3 linked regions of the Homo sapiens genome follow. The protein of the gene in region 3 interacts with the protein of the main gene of each other region in a pairwise test. Each region holds a gene or a part of one and is shown on either strand. Other genes may lie near its edges.

The links. The genes of interacting proteins can lie anywhere in the genome.
Region 1: the proteins of CBY2 (region 3) and SYT17 interact in binary tests that used the Homo sapiens proteins (3 or more experiments, as listed by UniProt).
Region 2: the proteins of CBY2 (region 3) and ZNF572 interact in binary tests that used the Homo sapiens proteins (3 or more experiments, as listed by UniProt).

Annotation. Positions count from the first base shown.
Region 1 is NC_000016.10:19,177,243-19,186,687, reverse strand, and holds part of SYT17 (synaptotagmin-17), read right to left. Parts: intron 6,298-9,445; coding exon 6,149-6,297; intron 5,941-6,148; exon of another isoform or gene 5,242-5,940; intron 3,226-5,241; exon of another isoform or gene 3,161-3,225; coding exon 2,541-3,160; intron 1-2,540. UniProt on the Homo sapiens protein: Plays a role in dendrite formation by melanocytes.
Region 2 is NC_000008.11:124,975,298-124,981,337, reverse strand, and holds the end of ZNF572 (zinc finger protein 572), read right to left. Parts: intron 5,733-6,040; 5' UTR 5,698-5,732; coding exon 5,619-5,697; intron 4,991-5,618; coding exon 3,480-4,990; 3' UTR 1,949-3,479; downstream 1-1,948. UniProt on the Homo sapiens protein: May be involved in transcriptional regulation.
Region 3 is NC_000013.11:45,711,075-45,716,259, reverse strand, and holds the end of CBY2 (protein chibby homolog 2), read right to left. Parts: intron 3,079-5,185; coding exon 1,888-3,078; 3' UTR 1,701-1,887; downstream 1-1,700.

The DNA of each region.
Region 1 (9,445 bases), on a different chromosome or scaffold from region 3:
AGAGACAGAAGGCATTTACAGCCAGGACTTGAGTCAAACCCACAATTAAAGGCATTAACAGCCACTACTTGGCTGATAATAGCACCAGCAAGGCTGGAAGCCCGAGTGTGACGGACCAGAGTATAAATCAGATGAGCAATTAGAGCAGTTGACCTGCCTGCAATATTTCAACTTTATACACACTTTTGTTATTTTATTTTTTTAGAGACAAGGCCTCACTCTATTGACCAGGCTGGAGTGCATCGGCGCAATCATAGCTCACTGCAGCCTCAAACTCCCGGGCTCGAGCAATCCTCCTGCCTCAGCCTCCCGAGTAGCTGGGACTACAGGCACATGCCACCATGCCTGGCTAATTTTTTTTTTTTTAATGTTTTGTAGAAATAGGGTGTCACTATGTTGCCCAGGCTGGTCTCGAACTGTTGGGCTCAAGCCATCCTCCCACCTCAACCTCCCAAAGTGCTGGGATTACAGGTGTGAGCCATTGCACTCAGCCCTATACACATGAATACTTTTAATTCATAGAGGCACTGAAAGGTCCCCATGAAACTAAGGCACGGCCTGCAGCTCTATCAAGGGTGAGGAGCCAGCCCTTGTCTGGGAGAAACCTGCTCCCGCAGTGACCTGAAACAGGCCCGGCTGTCCCTCTTCAAATGGAAAGGAGATGGCAGCCCCGAGATTAACTCAGCTGAGGAGACGCCAGCTCCTCTACCGCAAGAAGGCTCAGCATCAGGAGTGAACGGGAACACTCCCCGCCTCTTGTCTGCCCAATTAGATATTCACCAGGTGTGATTACCGCTTAGTGCACTGGAAGGCGACACATTACAGGCTCACTCTGAATGGGTTCACAATAGAAGACGTCGTCTCCTGACAACTGGGCCTGCCACTGTGGAGTGCTCGCCACCCGCCAGGCCCTCGCTGCGAGGTGGTGTTACTACCTCCACTTCACCTGAAGTGAGGTGAGGGAGCACAGGGGCCCAGCAACAGCTAGGCACTGGGAGGAAGGTTGCAGCTTGGACCCAAGGCCATTTTCTCTGCACGTCACCAAATGGCTCCCCATGGAAAGGCAACTTTTTTTTTTTTTTAAAGAGACAGGGTCTCACTCTGTCAACCAGGCTGGAGTGAGCTGGAGTGAGTGCAGTGGCTCGATCATAGCTCACTGCAGCCTCAAACTCTGGGCTCAAGAGATCCTCCTGCCTCAGCCTCCCAAGTAGCTAGAATTACAGATGTGCACTACCATGCCTAGCTAATTTTTAAATTGTTTTTTGTAGAGACGGGGTCTCACTGTGTTGCCCAGGCTGGTCTTGAACGCCTAGACTCAAGTGATTCTCCTGCCTCAGCCTCCCAAAGTGCTGGGATTACAGGCGTAAGCCACTGCGCCTGGCCTGGAAGGCAGCTCTTATTGACCTCATGGTGGCCAAAGCCCCCTCCCCTGTTTCTCCATCTCCCGTCCCTGTTCCTACAACAGCCATCCCACAGGACAGGGAGAGAAGGAAGGGAAGAGGGGAGGAGGGGAGGGAGGAAGGAGGGGAAGGAGGGAGAAAGGGAGGGAAGAGGGTAGCAGGGAAGGAAGGGAGGGAGGGAGTGAAGAGAGAAGCGGGAAGGGAGGGAAGGAGGAAGGAGTGGCTGGGTCTTTTCCTTTCCTTGGGCTCCCCACATCCTTCTACCTACAATGGGTAGACAGTTACCCTCTAATATGCAGGAATGCACAACAGCCGACTGGAGACACAGCCTGGTCCGTGGGTGGCTTCCCGAGCAGCCAACCACATTTCCCTGGGCTGGACAGGGGGAAGGAAGCCAATCTAACAGTTGGCCTGAAAAACATCCATGCATCATCCTGTTTTCCAGCCTTCACTTTTTCCCCAAAAAAATCAATTTCTGAAAGTCAAAATGATTGATAGCTTTATACCCTGTGCAATCATTCTCCTTATTAAATAACTCAGCATCGATGATTTAAAAAAGGCTTCCAGAGTGGTGGTGGTTACAGGAATCTATACATGTGATAAATTTTCACAGAAAGACACACACATGAGTGATGCATGTAAAAAGTAGTGAAATCTTGAGGTCAGGAGATCGAGACCATCCTGGATAACACGGAAAACCTCATCTCTACTAAAAAAAAAAAAAATACAAAAAAATTAGCAGGGCGTGGTGGCGGGCGCCTATAGTCCCAGCTACTCAGGAGGCTGAGGCAGGAGAATGGCGTGAACCTGGGAGGTGGAGTTTGCAGTGAGCCAAGATCACGCCACGGCGCTCCAGCCTGGGTGACAGAGCGTCTCAAAAAAAAAAAAAAACTACTGAAATCTGAGTAAGCTCTAGGTTAGTTACCAACATCTATTTCCTGGTTGCGTAAGATGCTATCATGCTGGATCAAGAGGACACAGGAACTCTCTGCTATTTTTGCAACCTCTTGTGAGTCAAAAATTATTTCAAAATAAAAAGTTTTAAAAATCCAAAAAAGCCTTTTAAACAGTAAAATAAAATAAAAATAATCACTTTTTAAAAAAGCTCCCAGGAGGAAACACCACAAACCCATCCCTTACCTGAGAACTGGGAATCAGCGCCTTCCACCAGTGCCCGCCCTTGACCAGGTCAACTTCACACAAAGGCACAGAAACTTTCCCAATGACACAGTGGCGGGAGAACTTATCAAAATCCACCACGGTCAGGAGCAGGGTCCTCCTCTGGGCCTCCAGGAAGGGGATCTCGAAGGTGTAGCGCTCCTCAAACACGGGCTTCTGGGTCTTGCGTTTGACCCCGGTCTGCTTTGAGTTCTTCTGGTCTGGCAGGAGACAGATCTTGACGTAGGGGTTGGAGTGCGCCATGTCCTGGCGCGAGCCATCGTGGGAGATGGGAGGTGGCAGGTCCCTGGCCTCGATCACGCGCACGGTGAGGTGGTTGTGCAGCAGGTCGTACTGAGTGCTGAAGTGCAGCATGCCCAGCTGGTACTTGGACAGGATCTCCTCGTCTGTCAGAGAGTCCACATCGTCGCTGTTGGAGTCGAGGGAGTACAGGTGGGGTTCGAACTTCCTGAAATAGTCGTCGGGGTTATAGGTCCGTCTGAGCACCGAAGGTTGGATGGGCTCCTTCTTGGCGCTGAGAACGCCAAACTCGATGGGTTTAATATCGATGAGTGGAGAGCTGGGACGTCTTGACTCAAGACCTGAGAGCCACCAGAAATAACAATGAAGACAGCCACATACGGGGCAGACCTGGGCCACTTTGCAGGTAAGCAGATTCTTGCATTGTTTACTCTGCTTCAGAATGACCTTTGCCATCTTTCTCCACACTCTGAAATACTCACTGATTCTGTGACAGATAGTTTGGTGGCACTATTGACACCTTGCCATCATCACAGCAGCTAAGTGCCAGGCACTGCTCTAATGGACTGTGTACACTACATCATCGCATATGTGCAATCACAATCTTCACATCCCCTTGAATTATTAGATAATTACTATTATCCCCACTTTATAGACGAGGAAACAGAAGCTTTAAGTAACTTTCTGAAGGTCACACACTTGCAAGTGTAGGAGCCAGGGGTCAGGCTGGTCTAGCTGACCCCAGAGTCTGGCTCTAACCATTATCCTACGATGTCTCCACTTTAAGAGAGTGAGCTCTGGGACCAGAGTGCCTGGGTGGAATTCCATCTCAGCCACTTACTCACTACTCGTGTACTCATTACCAGTGAGCCATGTGACTCCGGGCATATTCTTTTGACTCTCTGGGACTCTGTTTTCCCATCAGTAAAATAGAGTCAATAACGGCACCTACCTCAAAGAATGTGGTGAAGATTCACTGAGCCAGGGCATGAAAAGAGCATGGCACAGAATGTGCCCGTAGGCACAGACCAATAAATGGGAACGACTGTACTTCTTCAAGGTTCATATTCAAACCTCACCGCTTACGGGCCGCCTCTCTCCCTTCCATGAACCAGCAGAATGCATTGATCCCAAGTTCATTATTCCAACCTTTGCACATCCCTCTCTTCTAGCAATGAGCTCATGGCATTCTTGCTAATTGCCCAAACAGTTGTCTTTATGAGACATTTGCCAGAGGCATGGGAGGTACTCTGATAGATGTATGCTAAATGGAGATAACCTGTGTTCAGAGCTGGGCATGAGACTTAGAAATTACCTAGGCCCACACTGTCCATAGAAAGATAACGCAAGCCAGAAATGCAAGCCACACATGTAACTTAAAATGTTCTGGCAGCCACGACTTTTAAAATATGCAAATAAAAGGGCAAAATTCATTTAATTTTATTTATTTATTTTGAGACAGAGTCTTGCTCTATCGTCCAGGCTGGAGTGCAGTGGCGGATCTCGGCTCACTGCAACCTCCACCTTCCAGGTGCAAGTGAATCTCATGGCTCAGCCTCTCAAGTAGCTGGGACTACAGTTGTATACCACCACACCTGGCCCATTTTTGCATTTTTAATAGAGATGGAATTTCATCATGTTGGCCAGGATGGTCTTGAACTCCTGGCCTCAAGCTATCTGCCTGCCTCGGCCTCCCAAAGTGCTGGGATTACAGGCGTGAGCCACCGCGCCCAGCCTGCAAAATTAATTTTAATATTTTATTTTATTTAACCCACTATATCCAATGTATACTCATTTCAACATGGAACCAATATAAAAATATTTTAGTGAGATACTTTAAATCCTCTCTCTCTTTTTTTTTTTTTTTTTGAGACAGAGTTTCATTTTTGTTGCCTGAGCTGGAGTGTAGTGGTGCAATCTCGGCTCACTGCAACCTCCACCTCCCGGGTTCAACCGATTCTCCTGCCTCAGCCTCCCAGGTAGCTGGGATTACAGGCATGCGCTACCATGCCCGTCTAATTTTGTATTTTTAGTAGAGATGGGGTTTCACCATGTTAGCCAGGCTGGTCTCGAAGTCCTGACCTCAGGTGATCCTCCCGCCTCGGCCTCCCAAAGTGCTGGGATTACAGGCATGAGCCACCGCGCCCAGACTTTTTTTTTTTTTTTCCTCACTGTCCTGAAAGTCCAGTATGTATTTTGCACTTACAGAACATCAGTAAGATTCAGTCTCACACCATTTACGTGCTCAACAGCTACGTGTGTCTAGTGATTGTTATACCAGACAGCGCAGCTCTAGACCAGCCCTCTCATTTTACAAATGGGAAGACTGAGGCCTAAAGAAATCCAGTGCTCCCTCTGTTTCACTATTTCATGCCCTTGAACTCTTTTTTTTTCTACTTTTTTCTTTTCCCTCTATCCCCAGGAAAGGTTGGACACCAATGATCTCCACCTGAATGGATTTGTTTCATGCATTTGAAGCTTTTCCCTCTGTCTGGTGAATTTCAGACATCGGTTCACACAGAGCAGAGATACTTTTGTGGAGCAGAAGGAGGTTGGGAGCCTCTGGGTGTTTGTCCTCCTTTTTCCTCCTCACCCAAATCATGCTGTTTGGTCAAACACATACGCCACACAACAGAGTGGACAAATTGGGTGGTCAAATTTGATGGCCACACATACATTTTGTTTAGGCTTGAAAGTAAGAATGTTTCACATAAAAAAACCCAGATTGCCAATATCTCTTTACAAAGATCAGACAATACGGAGCCCCCAATCCCATACAGCTACCATTGGCCAGAGCTGAGTAGCAGACACCCTGGCCCCCTTTCAATGGGGCATTTGCTTTTCAATTGACCGAAGTCCCCACCCTGCCCTAGTAACTCTCCAGACAGAGCGGCAGCTGCCATTTGTCACTGCACTCAGGCAATGTTTATCTCTATGCAACCTCTGCACTTGGCCACTGATGCAACCCGCCTAGCTCCCAAAGTCACCAGAATTGACAAACCCTGCTATATAATATAGCCACACTCATCTTTCAGAATCTGAAATGATATACACTGACAATGTTAATCAATTCAGCCAATTCAATCAAACTTAAAATTAATAAAGCAAAAATCAATCAAAATGATTGCTTTTGATTAAACTCAGCAGCAATCAGGTGTGATGCCCTCCTCTGTCACACCGTCATTATCTCTCTCTCGCCCTGTCTCCTGGACTGTCATCCCACTCTGCCGCCCTCCCCCAGCAATAACACTGCCCTTCATGACTCTCCGTGGGAGAGTGTCTGGGAAAGCCAGCCAGGGCCCCCAGAAAGGTAAAGCAGAGATACTTACTCGAAATCCTCCGCGTCAGGCTGTATGTAGACTTGGATGTGTCTGAGGACGAGCGTCTTCCATCCGGGGAATTGGTCCGTGGGGTCAGCGGGACTTCGCTGGCCGTGTGGACAGAGTCACCATCCTTGTCACTGCTCCGGCTGGCCATCCTATAGGAAGGGAAGAGGTCTCAGTAGCTGTCCAGGAATCCCCGGGGACTGGCATCTCTGTCCCTTGGGGGTTAAGACCCACGATGAAACCGCTCTCAGACTCATTTTATGCAACATGGAATAATGCAAATTTGACAGTGTGGTGTCCTTAAACTCTCAACAACGTCTTGCTTTTTGCACAAAATGTGAAATGATATGAAGAAATATTCCCCAATTTAGAACAATCTGTCAAGAACTTGCATAATTTCAAAGCTGGGGTTGGGTGGAGAGCTGTGTAAAGTTAAGCTGTCGCCACGTGGGGGCGCCACTTTGGCTCAGTGAAGCCCGAGACCTGTCAATCTCCAGCCTGGAGTGAACCGTCTGGTTGTTTTATAGGCATCCGAACTTCTGCTTTTGGTTACAAGTGTCCTGGTATTTCAACAGTCACTGTGTCTATAATTTAAGATCTTTTAAAAATATCCTATAACAATGTCACTCAAGGGTTCTTTGCGCGGCAGAAATGGCCCTGAAAATCAACAATTTCTGAACAGAAGTTTGATGTAAAGAAATAGCTATAAATTAGCAGCAGCCGTGACTCAATGTGCTCCCAATAAAGAACTGCTGAGAAATTGGGAAGGAGGATGTAGGGGTGGATGGAGAAGGAAGACGATACAGGGTAGTCATTGAGAGAACCGCTGGGGCTGAACCCTGGCTGGGTGCTGGGGCAAGTCCCTTTCCCCTCCCGTACCTCCATTTCCCCATCTGTAAAGTGGAAATATTGACAGTACCCACATTATACGGTGGTTGTAAACACTGAATGAGTTAACACATATAAAATGCGTAGAGGCCGAGCATGGTGGCTCACACATATAATCCCAGCATTTTGGGAGGCCAAGGCAGGAGGATCCCTTGAGGCCAGGAGTTTGAGACCAGCCTGGGCAACACAGCAGGACCCATCTCTACTGAAAGTTGGCTGGGCATGGTGGCCCACAGCTGTAAACTTTGTGAAGAATGTAAACTTTGGGAAGCTAAGGCAGGAGGATCACTTGAGCTCGAAAGTTTGAGATCAGCCTGGGCAACATGGCAGAACTCTGTTTCTACAAAAAAATTTTTTAAATTAGCTGGGCATGGTGGTCTGTGTTTGTAGTCATAGTTACTTGGGAGGCTAAGGCGGGAGGACTGCTTGAGCCCAGGAGTTTGAGGCTGCAGTGGGCTATGATTGTGCCACTGTACTCCAGCCTGGGTGACACAGCAAGAGACCCTGTCTCAAAAATAAATAAAATGCTTAGAACAGTGCTTGGTTGCGTAGTAAACAGCTGCTCAATACATCTTGAAACATTTTTTATTGATTGATCGATCAATTCATTGTTTTTTTTTTTAAGAAACAGGGTCTCACTATGTTGCCCAGGCTGGACTCGAACTCCTGGGCTCAAAGTGATCCTCCCGCCCTCAGCCTCTTGAGTAGCTGGGACTATAGATGCATGCCTCCATGCCCAGCTTAGTTGATATTATTACAACTGGGGTGGCTTTAAGATCCCCCCCAATACTCATAAAGCTAGGTAAGGATGCTGGAGGGATGGGAAAGGAGGTAGAAAAACAGCTGGTGACGTCGTTTTGAGACTGATGCTGCTAATAACATGCCCCTAAGCCATAATGGCTGTAGATTTATGCCTTCCGAGGCTGCATACCCCCCAACTTGACATTAAAGCCTATGGGAAAACTCGTCTTGAAAAATGCAAGTTTTGAATGCTGTGAGGTCTTCAGACGCATCCTGTGCATGAGATGAGACTGATCTGATGTTCTTCAAAAGTGTTATCAGGAGCTAGGCATGGTGGCTCATGCCTGTAATCCCAGGACTTTGGGAGGCTGAGGTGGGTGGATCACTTGAGGTCAGGGGTTCGAGACCAACCCGGCCGACATGGCGAAACCCCATCTCTATTAAAAGTACAAAAATTAACCTGACGTGGTGGCATGCACTTGCAGTCCCAGCTACTTGGGAGGCTGAGGCATGAGAATCACTTGAAACTGGGCGGGCACGGTGGCTCACGTCTGTAATCCCAGCATTTTGGGAGGCTGAGGCGGGTGGATCACGAGGTCAGGACATCGAGACCATCCTAGCTAACACGGTGAAACCCCATCTCTACTAAAAAAAATACAAAAAATTAGCCGGGCGTGGTGGCGGACGCCTGTAGTCCCAGCTACTCGGGAGGCTGAGGCAAGAGAATGGCATGAACCCGGGAGGCAGAGCTTGCAGTGAGCGAGATTGCACCACTGCACTCCAGCCTGGGCGACAGAGCTAGACTCCGTCTCAAAAAAAAAAAAAGGAGAATCACTTGAACCTTACCCAGTCTTGGGTATCCCTTTATCACAACAGAAAACAAACTAATACAGGTTGGGAGAAGGATGAATAACTAATTTGCACCACTGTTAAAAGGCAGAACCCCAGCTAAGCCAGTAATGCTAAACTCTAAATGGCACACACTCCCAATCGCCAAGTGGGGCATCTCTGAGAGGGCTGTAAGAGCTCTGCACATTGTAGGCATTCAATATGTGCTTGTTCGACAAACAATCAACCAACTTGACTTTAATTCACTCTTCAATGAGGGTCTTTCTGGCATTGCTTCAAAAAGCACCAGTCAGATTGTGCAGTTTTCCTAATCTTCACCAGCCCAGCCCAGCCAAGAAAAGTTGGGGGCCCACAGGACATGAGCATATGTGACAATTAATGTATCCCCAAGATCACACGCAGAGCACACACAAAGGGCCAGCTCATCTGCCACATGCCAGTCCACAGAGGCAAGTCCCATGGTTCTTGGCTCAAATGTCGCAGTAGGAACAGCACTGCAAAGCCCATACACTTGACATTTCTACTTCCTGTCTGTTTGATAACATGCAGCTGCCCACTTGGTAAATAAATCTGGGGAAAACACAAAGCTGTAAATTTACTTTCTGAATGATTTAGCCATCTTCCCTTTACAGATTTCTCTTACCGTTTTGCATTATGCTGAGTGTCAAAACTGTATTAAGCACTGCCCAGTGTTCAGAAGAGACCTCATTCATCCTGGGAAGCACAAAGGTCACGCACAGCTGTTCAGTCTGTAGACTGCACAACCCTAGGTGGTGCCATTCATAATGGCCACCATGTGAATGGCGCCACCTGGAATTTTGT
Region 2 (6,040 bases), on a different chromosome or scaffold from region 3:
TTGTGAGTATATGCATTGACATGGCTCTCCCTATGCTATGGTATGGAAAATATATATGAGCTCCTTCTTTGAGTAGGAAAAATATACATTATAGGTCTCTTCTATTTAATTAAAAAGAAACTATGAAATAAATCACTCATAAATAAAGAATGCTTTCTTTATTCACATGCTGAGTCCTTTATGCTAGCAAGAAAAATAGAGAATATAGAATTTCTTTCTCATGGAGCTAAACAAAGAGCCTACTTGCTGATTAATGAAACTGAGATAAAAGTATCACATATTACGTTTGACTATGTTATCTTCTCCATCATAAGGTACAAATCTCTTGTTTTCCTCATTTTCAATCCAAAGAGACAAGGATTTTTGCCAAATTTTTCTACTAATGGAGCCCATCTTAACCCATCTAAGATATGAACATCTTTATTCTGGTAGACATCAAGGTTTGTGAAATAGGTTTTATATATTGCCAGCCATCATAGTACATTGTATAGGTGATGGTGACAGGACATAAATTGTACCTGTTATTAATCTCTTCAGATGCAAATTAACTTCAATTGAACTTGCGACTTTGTTCTTTCCCAAGTTAAACCAAATCCTTTGTTTCATGAATAAAAAGAAAATTTAGTAAAATTTCCTGTTTCTTTGTTATAGCTGCTTACAAAGTGAATAAAAGTGTTTTAGACAGTCTGCAAACAATATAGTCCTGTGCTTTTCCAATATTTTATCCCTTAAAATTCCTGAAGTTGATCATAAAGAATCTACAAGTAAGATAAGTTTGGGGCTGTACTACTACTTCCTATTTCTAAAACATGTGGATAACATTTTTTTTCAGTTTGTTTCAATTAATAATAATAGCAGCAACTAAGTATCATTTATTGATACCCTGCTATGTTTAAGCACTGTGCTATATGCTTTGCAAACATTCATTTAATGTTTATGGTAACCCTGTAAGGTAGGCATTATTTCTGCTTTACAGATGAGGGAACTGAGGCTCAGAGTGGTTACCTACCACAGAGCATTGATTTTGTATCACCCCAACCACTGCTGCCTTGTAACTGAATTTCAGCCTCAACAGCAAACTCCTAAGTTTATCAGCCAACTCCTAAGCTGATAACTCCTTAGTTATCAAGCATTAATCAAACTGTTACCATAAAAACTTGTCCTGAAATATTACAATTTAAGAAAATTTGGGCAATACTAGATAACATACAAAGACAGAAAAATACTCAGGTGAGGTCACACAAAAGCCAATAATGGGCCAGGTGTGGTGGCTCACACCTGTAATCTCAGCAGCTTGGGAGGCTGAGGGAGGAGAACTGCTTGAAGCCAGGAGTTCAAGACCAGCCTGGGCAACATAGCAAGACCCTGTCTCTATAAAAATTTTAAAATTAGCTGGCTGCAGTGGCATGTGCTTGTAGTCCTAGCTACTCAGGAGGCGGAGATGGGAAGATCCCTTGAGCCCAGGGGTCTGAGGGTGCAGTCAGCTATGATGGTGCTAGTGCACTACAGTCTGGGTGACAGTGTGAGACCTTATCTCTTAAACAATTAATAAGGGCCGGGCGCAGTGGCTCACGCCTGTAATCCCAACACTTTGGGAGGCCAAGGCAGCTGGATCATGAGGTCAGGAGATCGAGACCATCCTGGCTAACACGGTGAAACCCCATCTCTACTAAAAACACAAAAAATTAGCTAGGCGTGGTGGCAGGCACCTGTAGTCCCAGCTACTCGGGAGGCTGAGGCAGGAGAATGGCATGAACCCGGGAGGCAGAGCTTGCAGTGAGCCAAGATCGCACTACTGCACTCCAGCCTGGGCGACAGAGTGAGACTCCGTCTCAAAAAAAAAAATAATAATAATGAATAAGAAAAAAATAAAAATAAAAAGCCAATAATGCCTAATGTTTTCCCCCTTTTTTGAAAGCAGAAAATTTCCCCCAAATTCTCCAATACCTTTATTTGTTAGTTTTTGCTTTATTTTTGTAATCAAATAACAATACAAAAACACACAAATACCCCGCCAGCATCAGGTGCACCACAATCATGAAAGATAAAATAACCCCCATGCAATTAAATGACCATCAGCTACAGAACTTTGCAGCAGCTACAACTGACCCATTCTGGCTTCACATTCCTAATATGCATCTCTGCATATTATTCATAAAATACATTCTGAATCCAAAAATTAGATGAAATCATGGGCAACTCAGGAGTCCTAATCTTCCTACTCATCTACCTTTTGCACTAGCAGGAAAAAAATGGGAGGAAGGGAATAGGATATATCTAATAATTTCCAAAGCATCATTCCCATAGGAATGAGTAGGGAAGATGGGACCTCAGTTATCAGATCCATATACCAATTATGTCAAGAGGCAAAAGAAAACTGTCAGTACCAAAGCTAAGAAGTCTCAGTACTCCTTAATGACAAACTGTCCTTGGACACTGGCTCAGATTTAGTGAGTTAATTATTAGAAAAAGAACCCAGTTCTTGAGCTGACCAAGAATTACATAATGGGATAATTTAGGGAAAAGGCTCTTCATTGCAAATTTTAAGATAGAATTCAGGAATCCTGCCTTCTATTCTGGCTTTGGTCAAGACAGTGAGGTCATATCACTAGATAACTCAGTTGGCAGCACATGAATTAGAACACACAATCATTAAAATATCCAATGTCTAAACCCAGTGTCTTCAATACTCTATCCCAATTCTACTCTATATTACAATTCTTTTTGGAGAGCAAACCCTCCAGAACACACTTCTACAGTCTTTATAGGAAATATTTATGGGTCTGTCAAGAATGATGATCTTGAATGAAAGAACCTTCTATAATATCCAATACAGTAGCCGCTGGTCACACAGAGCTACTGAGCACTTAGAAAGTGGCTAGTGTGACTGAGGAACTGGATTTAAAATTTCAATTAATCTTAATACAAATAGCTACATACGGCTAGAGGCTATGGTACTGGACAGTATAGTTCTAGATGGTACGACAGTTAATTTTTAGTGACTAAAAATGCATTTGAAAAAAAAAAATCTTAAGCCCCCAACAAAATAGCCAGGAAATCACATTATTTGCTCAAAAATACCCTTTCTTTGGGTAAACCCCTGAGGCCAGTAATGATGTATCTCTACCCAATAAGGGAAGAGAAAATAAAGTAATTCAATAGCAATTCTAGCTTCGGTTCTCATGGTTCCTTTGCTTACTCTCAGGATTACTCTGTATGTGTTCTTTTGAAGCTATTACTATCTTACCTTAAATTTTTAAAAGTCCTCCTTTCTTCATCCTTGGTGGATGAATCTCTCACTGGACAGATCCAATAACCTGGTGATTGGGGTCTTCCCATCCTTTAAACTGGGAGGTTGACTTTTTCCAAATGTTTTGACAAACACATCAAAGAAACTTTATAGCACAACAATCACAGAATACCTAAATTGTCATGGTCCAACAAGGAAGAAAAAACCATCACCAACCAGGCTTTGGGACTCAGGAAGATGAATTTGAGACGGAAAATGAAGAGATGAAGGGCATTTCCCCTGAACAGTTTTTCCAAGTCCATTCATGAGGAAAATCCCCAACGTCGGGAGACTCAAAAGGCTTTTCTACGTGAATTTTCCGATGCTGACTGAGGTAGGCACTTCTGCTGAAGCATTTCTCACAGCTGGTACATTTGTAAGGTTTTTCCCCTATGTGGGTCCTCCGGTGCCTGATAAGGTTAAAGCTCTGACTGAAGCTTTCACCACAATCAGGACATTTATAAGGTTTCTCTCCTGTATGTGTCCTTTGGTGAATCACCAGGGTGGAACTCTGACTGAAAGTTTTCCAGCACTCAGAACATCTGTAAGGTTTTTCTCCTGTATGTGTTCTCTGATGTCTAATGAGATGGGAGCTAAGGCCAAAACTCTTCCCACATTCACAACATCTATATGGTTTCTCTCCTAACTGGATTCTGCATTCTTCTATCACATTGCAGTTCTGACCCAAACTTTCCTCATATTCAGAACTTTCATAGGATTTCTCTCCTGTGTGCATTTTCTGGTGTGTAATAAGGTTTGAACTACGACTAAAATTCTTCCCACATTCTGGACATTGATAAGGCTTTTCTCCTGTATGTATTCTCTGATGTTTTATTAGAGTAGAATTACAACCAAAGCTTTTTTCACACTCAAGACATTTGTAGGGCTTCTCACCTGTGTGTGTCCGCTGGTGGCGAATGAGGCTGGAACTCTGACTAAAACTCTTCCCACAATCAGGGCACTTATAAGGTTTTTCTCCAGTGTGAGTCCTCTGATGTTCTATTAGGACATAGCTGTGACTGAAGCCTTTTCCGCAGACAGAACATTCATATGGTTTTTCACCTGTATGTGATCTGTGATGCTGAATAAGGTGAGAGCTGCTGCTGAATCTCTTCCCACACTCGGGACATTTGTAGGGTTTCTCTCCCGTGTGAGTTCTCTCATGGATAATAAGATGGGAGGTATTGCTGAAGCTTTTCCCACATTCACCACACTGGTAGGGCTTCTCTCCTGTGTGCATTCTTAGATGCTGAATCAGGTGAGAACTGTTACAAAAACATTTTGCACACTCAGAGCATTTATAAGGCTTTTCTCCTGAGTGGGTCCTCTGGTGAGTACGCAAATGAGAACTATTACTGAAGCTTTTCCAACATTCGGAACATTTATAGGGTCTGTCTACAAAGGATGAATTCTGCTGGACACAGGCATTGGTATGTTCTCCTGAGTCCCATTCCTGGTGATTGGGTTTTTCCTCCTCTTTAGCTATAAAATTTCCCCAATTCTCTGACTTGCCATCACTCTCATAGGAATCATGACACCAAATCTCATCTTGAACCCATGTCAGTGGCATTTCTTTTGCATCCTCATGCTTATAATGTTGTGGTCTATGTCTTTTAGACCATTCTGAAGGTTTCTCTTTAAGTTTATCTGCCTTAGAATTATTGTGGTGAACAGTTTCCAAATTATTCATACTTGTATCTCCTGCAAGAATAAACAAATATTCTAACCATATTCCAAATCTCTGCCAGAGAAGTAAATTCTAAATTGCAGTGGAAGAGAGGAAATAACACTGTAAAACCTCATAAATAATTTCATATAAAAAAGTTTTTAAAGACAGTTTTACTTCTTTTCCTCTGTTTACCAGAAGCAGGTGGATTTTTTTTTGTACCTAGCAACAACAATAATGAATTATTTGAATCATTATTGGCAAAGGGAACATCAATCTAAAAATAAATGCATTAGGTTTTGTTCTAGAAGACTTAAGAGAAAAAACAGGATTGATGTGAATAGAAGTTAAATTGAACAGGATACCATCTCAGGTAAAAACTAGACAATAGCTTTGCTAAAATCTGAGCAAATGCTATAGAAATAACAATAGCCACTATTTATTAAGAACAGTAGCTTTGGATACGGTATCTCACTAATTCTAAAATATATGTGAAATAGATATTATTCATTTTCTTAAAGATGAGAACAATGAGGCTGAAATAATTAACACAGCTTATAAGTGACAGAACAAGGAATTAAATTAAGGTTTGTCTCATTCTAGTGTCCTGTTCTTTCTACATCAAATTTCCTAAGGATTCAGATCATCGTCTTGATCCCTCACCTGTGAAAGGGCTTTTCAAACTCTCCCTCTCCATAAAGCTGTTAGAATCTGAGACCAACAGTTTTTTTTCTTGCTCCATCACAATGATCACAGCCAAGTTAGAGATCAGAAACCCTGTGGAAGGAAATAAATTATGTTTGGAGGTATTTGTTAAAGCTTATTCTTCCTCCTTCCTTCCCAACCATTCCAACACAACAATAGGAGGCATAGAATGTTCCATGAACCATACCGAAAATAAGAAACACAACTTTTAGCAGCCCTTTTAGAAAATCTTATCTCAGATCTAAGTGTTTAGAATTAAGGGTTAACCCTGAAATAACAATGCAAAAAAGTAAATCTTCACATTAAAGGTCTGAGGATCAAGCTTCAAAGACAGAATACTAATCCTCATTGTCCACACGTAGCTTAGAAACACTTTTACT
Region 3 (5,185 bases):
AGTCACAGCCAATATCAATTAAATCATAATGTCTAAGCTGGGGTCCAGGTGTCAATACTTGTCAAAGACCCTCAGGTGATTCCACTATACAGCAAAGTTTAGGAACCACTGACCAACTCCCTTTTATAGTCACCTAGGAGTACCTTTCAATTTCTTGACTCTAAAGTATGTCCAACTTTGAAATGGGCATTGAAGCCCAGGACAACAAATCTTGAGCCTCTGCACCTGCCCCCAGTAAGCCTGACAGCCAACCACCCTCATCTCTTGCAGCCAACTGGTAAGTGTGAACCATGAGTAAGTAGAGGGAATCCGAGGGTAGGGAAGTGAGCCTGGGGTTGGGGAGAGCACAGGGCACTCCTTCCCAAACTGGGTGAATAACAGAGAAAACACAGAAAAAGATTTCAAGATCACATCAAATTGGGTAATTAGGGGTTCATCCAGGATAAGCAGATTACTTCACTGTAGGACTTGTTAGGACCTTTAAGTCAGAGTATGATTATGAATCTGCCCGAGGGGATTCTAGCAGCATTTCCTCATGCAAACCTTTATTTTTCTCAGTGTATTTCTAGGACTTGTGTTTCAATCAATGGTACTTGGAGAAACCTATAGTAGTGTTGAAATTTGTCCCCCAGGGGACATTCAGCAATGTCTGGAGACATACTTGGTTGTCACAGCTGGGAGCCAGGTGGCTGTTACTGGCATTGAGTGGGTAGAGGCCAGGGATGCTGGTAAACATTGTGCAATGCACAGGACAGACCCCAGCACAGACTTATCCAGCCCCGAATAATAAAGGCACAATCGAAAAGCCCTGGCTTAGGGTGATCTCTTCCCCCATAGACCTACCCCCACCCCCATAGCCTCAGAAATTGGAGATGATGAGGGAGCAAGAAGGATAGGAGAAAGAGAAGAGGAGGAAGAAAAAACTAAGGAAAAAAAGGAAGAACTGAAGGAGAAAAACAGAGACAATAATGAAGGCAGAGGTAAAGAAGAGACCAGGGGAAAAGAGAGAAGAAGCCAGATTCATAATTGTCTTGAGAGCAACCAAGATGTTCTTTAGTAGATGAAAGGATAAACTGTGATCTATCCAGACAATGGAATTTTATTCAGTGCTAAAAAGAAATGAGCAGTCTCTGAATCTATGAAAAGACATGGAGGAAACTTAAATGCATATCCAAGTGAAAGAAGCCAACCTGAAAAGGCTCCACACTTGGCGATTCCAACTATATGACATTCTGAAAAAAGCAAAACTATGAAGACTGTAAAAAAGATCAGTGGTGGCCAGAGGCTGGAGGGGGAGGGAGGGATGAACAGGCAGAGCACAGAGGATTTTTAGCGCAATGAAAATACTCTATATGGTACTACATATACTCTATAATACTCTATATGGTACTACAATGGTGGCTACATGTCACTATGCATTTGATCAAACCCACAGAATGTACAACACCAGCAGCAAACCCTAATACAAACTTACGGACTTTGGAATAATTATGTGTCAATGTAGGTTCAAAGACTGTCACTAGTGTACCTCTCTGGAGGGATGGTGATAATGCGGGAGATTATGCATTTGTGGGACGGGAGTCTATGGGAACTCCCTGTACTTTCTGCTCAGTTTAGCTGTGAACCCAAAACTGCTCTAAAATATTGTCTATCTTTTATTAAAAGAAAGAAAGAAAGAAAGAAAGAAAAAGGCAGCATGCTGGTGTCAACTGGCCCCAGCCTCCTCACACCTTTATTAAAACTCTGAGTTTAGGAAGGCTGCTAACGCTGCTTTTCAATAGGTACGAACTGGCTGGGGAAGGCGAGGACGACAAAGGAAGGCAGGGGATTCTCTTTTGCCCAGTGTTCGGTGTCCCAAACTCGGCGTCCCGGTGCAAGGCCGAGGCCTCAGACCCTGCTAGGCTTCTTGGGGTCCTGGCTCCTGGCCGGCATGAAGGCGTAGAGCTCCTCGATGAGCATTTCCATGCGCGCGGTGACCTCGGTCACGGTGTCAATGACCAGCTTCTGCTGCAGCTTCAGCTTGTTGTTCTCCCACAGGGCCTTGTTCTCCTCCTGGAAGCCCCTGTGCTCTGCCCGTAGCACCTGCAGGGTCCTGTTCTCCTCCTGCAGGAGCCGGTTCTCCTTGAGCAGGGCCTGCAGCGCCTGCCTCATCTCTCTCAGCAGCTGCAGGGGCTGGCAGCCGTCGGGCAGGCCCGGGCCCACCTTGGCCTCCTCCTCCCCGGAGGGCCCGGACATGTTGCTGACCATCTTCCGCAGGGCGCGCAGCTCCTTGGAGTCCTCCTGCCGGGCCGGAGGCCCTTTGGGCTCCTCGAAGCGGGAGGAGAGGCCGGAGCCCTGGTCCTGCAGCAGCCCGGGGCTGCAGGGCTCCTCGTGGGGTGAGGGGGCGGGCTTGCTTTCCTCGGCAGGGGCGGCCGTGTCCTCTGCCTGCGCCCAGTAGGCCTGTTTCTGCTCCAGCAGCTGCTGCAGCGCGCGATTCTCCTCCCGGAGGAGCTGCAGGGTGCTGTCCTCCTTGCCACGGGGCACCTGCAGGGCGACGTGGTCCTTCTTCACCACCTCCAGGGACGCGCTGTCTTTGTGCAGCAGTGGCGAGGGGGCCCGGCTCTCCTCTCGGCCCAGCGAGGCCTTGTGCTCCTCCCAGAAGACCTGTAGGATCTTGTTCTCCTTGCTGAGCATCCGGTTCTCCTCGCGCAGGGCCTTGTTCTCCTCCCGCAGAGACTTGTTCTCCTCCTGCAGCATGCACTCCTTGGCCAGCCTCTTGTGGTGCAGCTTGTGGTGGAAGGAGGCGGATGGGGAGAAGTAGGGAGACTGCAGGCGGCAGTTCTCATTTACCCAGCGCCCGTCCTGGAACACGAACATCTCGTCGCTGAGCTGCACCCGCGGCGGGTTGTAGTCCAGCTCCAGGTCGGCCTGGGACATGGGGCGCTCCATGGGGTCTAAAGGCACGGAGGAGAAGCGGTTCAGTGGATAGGAGTGCTGGCTCGCCATCCTGCGGCTCAGCCGGGGCAGGGCGGCCTGCTGCGCGCAGCGAGGGGTGCTGTACAAGTTGTGGAGCCTCGGGAAGGGTTCGGCTGTGCCCCTCTGCGGGAGAGAATGGGAAAGCCCAGCGTTAACGATGGGACTGACACACTTGGGGCTGGCTGACAAAGGGGCCAGGACATCCCCAAATAAGCCCCGTCTGATTGTCTGGCCTGGCCACAGTGGGCGCTTTTGCTTCTTGGGGTCCTCACAAGGAAATGTGGCCTATCCTTGTCATTCCAGTGAGTTCTGTTCTATGAAGTCAGTTCCAATACTGAATTAGCAAATATAGAACCATTGCTCCTACAGGAAATAGAGGGCTATGTTCCTGTGAGCCTGTGGTCACAGTTTTGTCAACCAAGCAATACATAACCTCATTTAGTGCGTATTGTTGATTCATTAACATCAAATTCACGTCAGCAGCACTGTCACGCATGCCCAAACAAAACTTCTCTAACACATGTGTTTTCTCCATGTGGCACAGCATAGCCTTCTTGTGATTGGGAATACTAGACAGCACTTGACTTGGAATGGTACAGAAGCCATTTTTAACAGCAAAATCACCAACAAAATGCACAAGAAGGCAAAACAAAAAAAGTGGCACTAGATAGACTGCGCAATGGACACTATTTTCTAGCCTGAGAGCTGAAACAAGAAGGCTCCTTGGCTGGGGACTCAACTTCACACAACTCAAATTTTCACCTCTCCGTGCATGTCTGAGAATTACCATAAAAGTGCTACAAGTATTGATTTGGTGGATACACATTTTAGCAAGTAGGCAAATTCACAAATATGGAATCCGTGAATAATAAGAAACAGTTATATATTATGGTGGTCAAAGGCATTCATTTTAGAGTCAACCAAATATTTTGAGTCTTTGCCTCACTACTTACCAATTAACAAGAATTTGAGCAAGTTATTTGAGCTTTAATTTCCACATTTTCAAATTGGGATAATTGCATTTACTCCTTGCCTCATAGAGACATTTTTAGGATTAAAAAAGGCAATGTACAAAAGCACTAAGCATGGGCTCTGGCACATTCTGTCACCCTAAAGGAGGAACAAACACTGTTCTCAAGGGCCACCACCCACAGATGTGTACTCACACTTAGCATGAGCAGAGAAGCAGCATGAATCATCCAAACAGCCACCCAAATTGCTGTGTCCAAAATGGCGGTGCCGTTGGTCAGCCCAGCCTTCTCTCTTGCCCATCTGGGCATATCCTTCACTCTTAGCCACCCTTGAGTCTTTTCTGCTAGCAGCCCCTTAAACATTCACCCCAGCTTCTAATGCAATGCTAGACTCAAAGCAGAGTCTAACTAATAATTTTGGAAAGAAAGAAAACCCATCCCAGACATATCACTGAGCAATGAGCGTTCAACATGTGGTGATAAAGCCAGTCAAGGACCCTGAGGAATTCATGATGGTGGCCATAGACCTCAAGACCACAGCATAAAACGGGGCTCAGATCCACAGAGCTTAACTCCAATGAGCTGGTAGCTTTCACACATCCCAGTACAGAAAAATAACTCCAGTGAGTTTTAAATGCAGATTTCTGAGCCTCCCATTGTGAGTCTGATTTACTCAGACTGGGGTGTGGCCCAGGAATCTGCATTTCTAACCAGCTCCTTCAGGTGTTCCTGGCTGCAGGTGGTTAGGACAGATCTAAGTCAAGTAGAATAGGCAATTTGCTTAAGTGAGGGTTGCACCAGCATTACAGACTGAAAGGTCACAAGAATTCTCATCCTGATTTTGTCACTGATGGGCACTTTGAAACCAGACAGCTCTCTTATCCTCTTTGAGACCCAGACTTTTCACGAGTGAAAAAGAGGGAGTCGGGCTCCATGATCTTAAAGGCACCTTCCAACATTGAAAAGTCAATGAAATATACCTGTAAAATAGAAATAATATGTGCCCTGCTTAGTTCACAACACTGTTGTGAGGATTAAATGAGATAATGAATGCAAAAATATTTTTAAAACCAACAGTGCCAAAGAACCATAAGGTATTATTATCAAGAAGAGTAGATTTCACTAATGCAAGAATTATAAGATGTATTCAAAAAGAAGTGAGCAAGTAGAATGCACACTAGAGAAGAGGTGATGATTGCAGCCATGAATTTAAGTAAACAGATCATGATAGCTACTTCCAAATACACCAAAAGTACTTC